Linked DNA regions of Homo sapiens: region 1 is linked to region 2. The links come from fine-mapping of genetic effects on gene expression. A gene starts in region 2. The other region holds a variant in brackets. All regions are shown on one strand. Distances are between the middles of the regions.

Region 1 (4,409 bases), 42 kb before region 2:
TACTTCATCGTATTCCAAACAAAGATGAAGGCAGTCCTAAGGTCATCTAACAAAGGCTATCATATTTCATTCTCAAAATAGCTCTGCACAATAGTAGGACAAATACAACTAGCCTCTTCTACACAAGAGGAAAGGACTTAGGTCAGATCACACTCCATAGAAGTTTGAGTCAGGCTGTCTGATTATGGTCTAGTTCTCCTTCCACACAGCTCACAACAAGAATCACAGGCATGAGTTAGCAAATAATTTAAATCATGAGAACTATAATTTAGAACATTCTTATGAAGTTAAAAGTAAACTGCTCATGTCACAAAAATGATGACCTGAATCCCTAATAAAAATATATAGAAAAGAACCATCAACCAAACCAGTTATTTCATTCTTAGCTGTATAGTATAGTAGTTAGCATTCCCTCTTACCTGCTAGCCTGGCCAGCAGGAGAGGTGCTTTGCATTAAAAGTCCTTTGAGACAGTAGTTTCTATGGGCGGCTGTTATTACCTCATTGAGCAATTGATTTTGAAGTGCAGGGAAATGGACGGTGACTAAGTCAACCCATATGCCACTAGTCCTTAAGATTAATATTTTACCTTACAATTTTAATAAACCATGATTTTAAAAAATAATTAGGTTTTAGGAATAGATTTCCAATTAAGCTTTATAGGTGCTAAGAATAATTTTTTCCAATGTTATATTCTATCCATCAAATGTTACTGAGTATGCTATTTTGGAGGGAATTACTAATACTCACTTCCTATGAATAAGTTACTTGGAGTACAGCTCCCCAACTAATTCTGATTTGATTTTATTTGATGTTGTGGTAAACTAGAGCTTGATCATTTTTGGACACAGAATCAGCATTCCATTGCATTTTCTTAGTACCCATGGCTAGGTCTTCTTTCTGTCTACTTAGAATCTCTACCTGGAGGAACTGGAGCCTAAATGAAACTATCTTGACCATCTAGATCACCTACCTTCTTCAAAAGTGAAGAGTGCAATGCAATCATTCTAACATTTAGATGTCAACTTAAAAAGCACTTAATTTTCTTTCAGCCTGTATCACAGGACTTTTCGAGGTATTTGTTTATACTGAAATAAATATCTGTCAAATCTTAAAGAAACCGAGACACAATGAGTGATTTCATATGTCCCTATTGCTGTTTGAAGTTTCTTCATCAAAGGCAAGCAATACTTTAAATTCCATATTTAAAAGGAAAGTGTAAAATGCAAATACCATGGAAAAAGTAACACACTGTCAAATTTATTCTGCTACACACTGGGGTAAGTATATATCCTGCAAAATAATTGAGAGTGGCTTACATATAAAAGAGTATCAGTGTACAAAGTATAAAACAATGGGATGGAAAAATGACCTCAAGTATATTCCAGCCTCAAAGTTTCATATATCTAAATCAAATACATAGTAAAAAAGAGGCATAATTATTCCCTAAAGCAACTAAGAAAAAAATTTGTTTACTTTTCCAAAATTATTCTATGTCTTCTGATAAGTACATTATAATTTCATGTTTTAAGTGAAAACTGTGATTGGGGTTGCATTTCTGTAGCTTATTCATGCACACTGAACGATGTTATCAGTCGCTGTTTACCTGTAAACAAATGGGAGAGTTAAGATTCTATGTCGCAAAACAGCTAGCCAGGACAATAAAAGATCAAATGATCTGCAGTCTTCAATTATTTTAAAAAATTGTTTTCAAGAGAAAAACTACCAAACTATCTGATAGTTCTAAGAACTTAATTTAACTTTAATAACCATTTTGCATCTAAAGTGTTTTTTATTGTGAACCCAAACAACTTTAAATTTTATTTACAAAATAGGTGTCACACACAAAGGTAGAGTGGAATCATTTATTTAATTCATCTCTATTTTGCTTTTCCTGCTATTTATCTGTGTTTATATTTTAGAAACTATTAAAATGATTTTAGAGTTAAATATCATTAGAGAAATTCCAAATTTGTTTTTCTTGGCAAGTAAAATTCTTAAC[T/A]TTTATGAGTGATGATCTGACTCTTGTAACGACTTTGTTCCTCCGTAAGCTTCATGTCTGGTGTCCTCATGAGTACTTGGTATGTTCCCTGGCACAGAGTAGGTGTTCATGGAATATTTCTTTAATGAATGAATGTACAAATAAATGAGATGGCAAAATCAGATATAGTTTTAATAATAGCTGAAGCTAGATGTAGTCTAGCTGCATAAAAGTTAATCACACTTCATTGCTGTTAACAGATAACTATCCTGTTAACTAATAAGGTAAATAATCGAAATTGGGAGGTTGGAGAAGGCAGAAAACCCTTACAGAGTGTGTTGATTTTCATTTACAAAGAAAAATGCAGGGACTTGGCAATATTTTATGGTGGTAGCTTTAGCTACTAAGAACACATTTAAAAAATCAATTCTCTATCATGTTGTTCCTAGCAAAAGCAATTGCCAGTTGATAAAATGTGTTTGCACAGTGATTACCTTGAGCTGAGATGCCAAATTTGGGAAAGGACTAGAGGAGGGCAAGTAATGTCTGCTAGGCGCTTGGCCTGGGCTCTGTGGGATTGTTGAGGACAAACAGACCTGGGTCAGCACTGGCTTGCTGCAGGGGCTGTTTCCTGGGGTGGTCAATAAAACCACGAAGCCTCTGAAGCACATGGAGTCTGTGCTGATGGTTTGCTTTTTATTTTTCTCCATTTTCCCATCCTTAATGCTGAAATGCAAAAGTTTGGAAGGCTCTCATGACATTCCAAAATAGAGTATAAAGTAGAATTTACCAAGCATTTACTTTGCTTTCCTTCAGGTGCCATCTCATGAAATATGCTTGCATTCAACACTGATCTGCCTGTATTCAGATGAAGCTGTAGACCACTGTTGTTAGGACATGGATTTGCACCGTTTTACCAACAGTGGGTGTGGATGTTATCTGGCACGTATTTTCATGAATGCTGTCAGGCAGCATACTTGTACCAAGGACAAAGGAAAAAGTTCACCTGGCTTTCTTGCAATTGCATCCATGACCATATCCATTTCTCACATTCACTCACATTCAATTTAATGCCCAGATAAGCATTATGATGTGTTTAACAGCATAGGTGTACAAGCTACACGAACCTGGGCTAGTTATTTGAATTCTCTTTGCTTCAAAACTTGTACTTATCTCAAAGGGTTGTTGTGAGGCTAGAATGAGTGGAAATATACAAAGTATTTAGAGGAATGGCAGGCATGTAGTAAACAATCAATAAATGTAAGCTATTACAACTATCATTGTGCTTACTGTTATTGTTAGTACTATTATTAGATATTTTGTTCTCTTCACTATAAGCCAAAACTAATGGAGGAAAATTAGGGCAATATCTCAGAGGGTTGAATTTCTTCTACTTTAATTTTTATTTTCTTCTCCCTCACCTATGTGTAAATAATATGTGCGTGTATGTTGAGGTGAGGGTGTAGGAGACTATCAACAGCAAGGGGAAAAGTAGAAACTTAACCTCAGTGAAGAAGGTAGAAGAAAATGGGACCGCCATCTATGATGGTTAATTTTAGGTGTCAGCTTTACTAGACTAAGGGATACCCAGATAGTGGGTAAAGCATTATTTCTGGGTGTGTCCATGAGAGTGTTTCCAGAAAAGACTGGCATTTGAATCCGTGGACTGAGTAAGGAAGACCCATCCTCACTCAATGTAAGTGGGCACCACCAAATTGGCTGAGGCCTAGATAGACAAAAAAGGAAAAGAAAAGGACAAAAATAGTACTTATCTCAAAGAGTGGTTGTGAATTATCTCTCTCTCTTTCTCGGAGCTGGGACACTCTTCTTTTCCTGCCCTTGGATATCAGAACTCCCAGTTCTCTGGTGTTTAGACTTGGGGACTTAACCTGGGTTCTCAGGCCTTTGGCCTCTTGGAGTGGGCCACACCACTGGCTTCCCTGGTTCTCCATCTTGCAGATGGCCTGCCATGGAACTGTTCAGTCTCTACGATCTCGTGAGCTAATTCTCATAAGGAATCCCTTCTCATCTATCTATTCTATTGGTTCTGTCTCTGGGGAGAACCCTGACTAACACAACATCTCTAAGTTTCACTTCAAGAGAGTAAGCAACATGTTTTATTAAATTGTATTACCATTTAATTTACAATAAGGATTTTAGAATTTTATAACAAGATCCTAAAATCTCAATGATTTACTCTGAATCTGGTCATCACTATGATATTGATCATGATGGTTATGCTATTAATGTTTAACAATGCAAAAGCAGAAGTCTTTCAGAAGGAACTCATACAAGTTAGCCATCTTCCTTAAGAAAGTAGCACAGACTATTAAGAACTGAATTATGTTGTAATTCTTATATTGCACTCTCTTCTAGTATTATGGAACATAAGCTTTTCTAGCAGGAAAAACTTAACTGAAAACCTACAA
Region 2 (4,409 bases):
ATGGTGTACTATACTACAAATAGCATAGTAGGCCCCCAAATGCTATTTTATGTATCATAGTGTTTGTATTTTTTCCTATTAATGTTTGTCTTTTTGTATAAGACAAAAAATGAGAAATAATGATAAATAGTTGAGTTATCCATAGTTAATGAAAAAGTTTGATATATTTCCTTTCAAAATCATGTTAAAAGGAATCTTGGAAAGGGTTATTCTGCCATGACAGGCTGAAAGGGCCTCATTTCTGGAGAAGGCCCATATCATCATACTACGGGATATGATACAGACCTGTTAGAAACTCTTACTATCAACAGCCAGCTATCATAGGCTATAGCACAGTGAATGCCAATATGGATGCCTTTTCTCAATTAAATAACTTTGCTTTGTTAAGACTGCTTATGTTCTACCCCTTACTGAATCACTTTCTAGCAGTATGGCTTTGGGCATGGTACCTAATATGTGTGTGTCTCAGTTCTTCACCTGTAAAATTAGGGATTATGACAGCATATGTGTCATGGATTTGTTATAAGGACTGAATGAGAGAATATATATAACATGCTTATAGCAGTGCTTGGCTCAGATAATTTCTTGTCATATTATATATTTTGTTACATCTAAAACTGAATGTAATGATAGAGACTAGGCAAATAAATGACACCCTGCATATGTGAAAAAGGATATGTACTACAGCACTTATGTGATTAGAAAAAAAATCTGAAACCAGTCTAAATGCCCATCCATAGGGGATTGTTAAATATGTTATAGCCAGACTGTGGAATACTATATAACCATTAAAAATGAGCTGGGTTTATATGCATTGACATGAAAAGTTTTTCATAATATAGTCTCTTAAAATTTTTTTTAAATTAATTTATTATTATTAAGAGACATGGTCTCTCTCTCTCTGTTGCCCAGTCTGCAGTGTAGTGGCAAGATCATAGCTCACTATAAACTGGAATCTTTGGGCTCAAGTGATCCTCCTGCCTCAGCCTCCTAAGAAGGTAGGATTACAGGTACACAACACCATACCAGGCTAATTTTACTTTTTATTTTTGTATAGCTGGGGTCTCTCTATATTGCCCAGGCTGGTCTCAAACTCCTGGCCTCAAGTGATCCTCCTACCTCGGCTTCATAAAGAAATGGGATTATAGGGTGAGACCCTGTGCCTGGCCATTATGTATTCTTATGTGAAATAAGTACTTCGTAAGATAATACATATATCATCATGTAATAATAATAACCAATATTTATTGAGTACTTTCAGTGTACCTGAACTGTTCTAAGCACTTTATATATATTTCTGTCTTTATCTATCTACTAACTCAATCTTCCTAACAACCTTTGAGGTACAAACTATTATCATCCTCATTTTACAGATGAGAAAACTGAGATCCAGAAATTCAAGATCAATAACCAATAATTGAAAAGGAAGTAAGACAGCCTGCCTTTGGAATATTGTGCCACTTTACCAATAATTTACTCTAATTAAAATGAAACAAAAATGTGTGCATGTTATTGGATGTATGGAAAGATGCATCAAACTAAATGACCTCAAGGGAGAGGTGTGGCTTCCGTGAGGAAGATGACAAGACTCCTTCTTGGTACTCATGTAATAAGTTTGTGATAAAAGATATTATTACTAAACAAAGATTAACATGTATAACTTGTCTCCTTTAAACATAATCTCAGAATATTAGGCAAAAATATTAGAGAGTAGAAAGTCTCTCCTCTTCGTTAAGTTCTCTAAAACATTTTTACTCTTTAACAGGTTCAACTCTACCAACTGTCTATAGCATTTCACAGTGTTGTGGATGATTATGCTGTCTAGGGAACTGAGTAGTTACTGCACTTTCAAAAACATCATCTCACAGTCCTGAGGTCCTGCAAAGTTTGTGTCTTTCCATTCTTACATATAACTTACTTAACAGTTACTGCTATCAAGAAAGTCTTGCCTTCTCACACTTCTTCCATTATTTTTATGCCCTATTTCAGTGATCTATCCACACATCCATCTTCAAGCTTCCCAAAGGCAGGAATCACCTATTGTTCGTCTGTAAACTCCAATGAGAAACATACAGTCTGGTGTATGGGAGGTCATCAAAACAAGTGTGGAGGTATAAGCTAAGACTGACAACTGCCTCCCAAGTTTCTATTCAAAAGTAATCATTTTGGATGTAAATCTCATCAGGTATGTGAGAACACACCACTTAACATCATAGTTAATGTAATATTAATATTATAATCGCTACATTTACTGACTGCCCCTGCCCCAGTGACACCAGGATCTCTAGAAACCTTGTTATATTGTCTTAATGCTCACAACAGCTGTAGAGGTGATTATTTTTATCTGCTGTTTACAAATAAAATTAAGTCAAGACTCAGAGAGGTTAAATAACTTGCTCAACGCCACACAACTAGAATGTGGTATAAGGAGGATTCAAACATAAGGTACTCACATACAAAATCTGTACTGTAAAAAAATTAAATAGTACTTTTTCTGAAAATGGTTAAGAGTCTGGACATGTAAACATTTTAGATGTTTAGATTTTTAGAATATTTTCTTTAAAAGATGTGTAATGAGAATCTGATTAAAGAAAAAGGGAGGAACATGATATTCTACGTAAGAGAAAATTAGAATATGTTATACAGATCAGTATTCCTAAGTTGTGAGGATAAATTTCTTAATTAAAAGATTCTAGGAAGAGGGAAATAAAATGAGATGTCACTTTATGCTTAAACTCTCCATACCTTTAAAATTGTCACTGCTTCAAAAATCACCAATCAGAAGTCACATATGTACATTTTATTCCTGCTAACTAAAGTAAATTTTATAAGTAAGATTTTGAAATCAACAGAGACTGTGACATGAGGGTGATTTATTTGGGAATTCCAACAGCTGAATGAAGAAAGATGACGATTAATATGGTGTCAAACACAATCTGTGTGAGGTCTCAGGAATAAAAGCATGTGATTGACACTCAAACAATAAGTAATCTTGACCACAGGCTGCTTGACAACTGACACCTGAACACGCCTGCAGGCAGCACAGGAAGGGACTCCAGAGTAAACAGCAAAAGCGACTCCATTTCAAGTTGGAAGGAATGTGCTCCTTTATTGTGAGATCCTTCTTCCTCGGTTATCCTTGTGTTACTCTATATTAGCAGTCAACGCTATTGCATTGCTTCCTTGCGTTGTTGTACGTGGAAAAAAAAATCATTGTTCTGCAAGCCAGGGGTGCCACTCCCCCTCTCAGTCACTTACGAAATGCCCGACACTGGGGAAATCAACTTCTTTGGTTCTTGTATTTCTGGTCTGCAATATCCAATTTGATCTACGTGAAGTCAGATCTCTAAGCTTTCAGGTCCAAGCTATTCTTCTTGCCCTTCTGGGACGTTTGTGTTTTTCCTGTTGATATGATACTAGTTGGCAGCTATTTCTCTCATTCAACATTTATCCAATTGATTCATGCTTATTTCCTGCAGTCTTTATTGGAAGGATAGTAGGTGCTTCCTCTCAAGGAAAAATAGGAGTTAGAAAACCATTCTTGTCTTTAAGATGGTTTGTGTTTAAAGAGTAACCAAGAAGCTGTAAACATACGCATTATGATTTTTATATGACTTCTTATATCAGATAACATTTTGGCTTTAAAGAGAACAACTTGTTTAATCATTTGAACGTGTATTTTCATTTATAGAGAATAAAAACCTGTCTAATATATTTTTAAAATACAATTTAAAAATAAAGCAAGGCCACTTTCTAGAGTGAAAGGAGCACAGCCCTGAGTCAGGGTGATATGAGTGATGCTCATGGCAGAGCCTGTGAGTGATGGGGGTAAAAGGTAGCTCAGAGAGGAGCCTGGGTAATAGAACTGGACAGCTTAATAAATGGCTGACACAAGGAAATGCCAATTTAAGGCTACTGGTGTTCAGATACATGTAATGTCACTAAGGAGCTGTTCAGCATTTTCATTCTAATAGCTGAATATAAACTGCAGCAGCCAGAGCTTTCTAGGGCAATGACAATGCCTCACTGCAGGCTTTAGGTGGAAGGCTAACCACTGCTTTTCAGAGACGTACCTAGGAAAACTCAAGTAAGCTACAAAGCACATGTTTTGTTCTTAGATGTTTGATATTCTGTGAATATACTACATGTGGGTTTTTTTTTAATAAATAAGGCTTTATTCTTTGTGGTTAATTTTTTTGTATATTATAAAAACAGTAAGTAATAGGAAGAATATCAAGAAAGGTAGTCCTGGCCAACCCTCCTGCCTGCATACATTTAACCACCAATTTATTATCTGTTTTTTGAACACCTATTATGGATCAGGCACTGTGCTCCATACTGGGGATATGATAAAGACACAGCCCTTGTTTTCGAAGAGTTCTTAGTCTAGAAGTTAAAACCGAAAACAA

Direction of the effects. Positions count from the first base shown, and alleles are read on the strand shown. Sizes are in standard deviations (SD) of each study's normalised expression.
With allele A in place of T in region 1, the expression in skeletal muscle of the gene that starts at base 2,005 in region 2 is lower (moderate effect, 0.73 SD a copy in FUSION).

What was found. PIP is the estimated chance that this variant, and not a neighbour inherited with it, causes the effect.
Region 1: its variant is fine-mapped to the expression of FREM2-AS1 in skeletal muscle (FUSION, PIP 0.95).

Annotation. Positions count from the first base shown.
Region 1 is chr13:38,867,146-38,871,554 of GRCh38, reverse strand. The region is part of intron 16 of FREM2 (FRAS1 related extracellular matrix 2); the gene reads right to left. Among named protein-coding and RNA genes, the nearest start is that of FREM2-AS1, 42 kb to the right of the region's middle. The variant T/A (reference allele first, on the strand shown) is at 2,002.
Region 2 is chr13:38,825,187-38,829,595 of GRCh38, reverse strand. It overlaps FREM2-AS1 (FREM2 antisense RNA 1), which reads left to right and starts at 2,005. Exons shown (of 2, transcript NR_146963.1): 1 at 2,005-2,185. All of the region lies in intron 6 of FREM2 (FRAS1 related extracellular matrix 2), which reads right to left.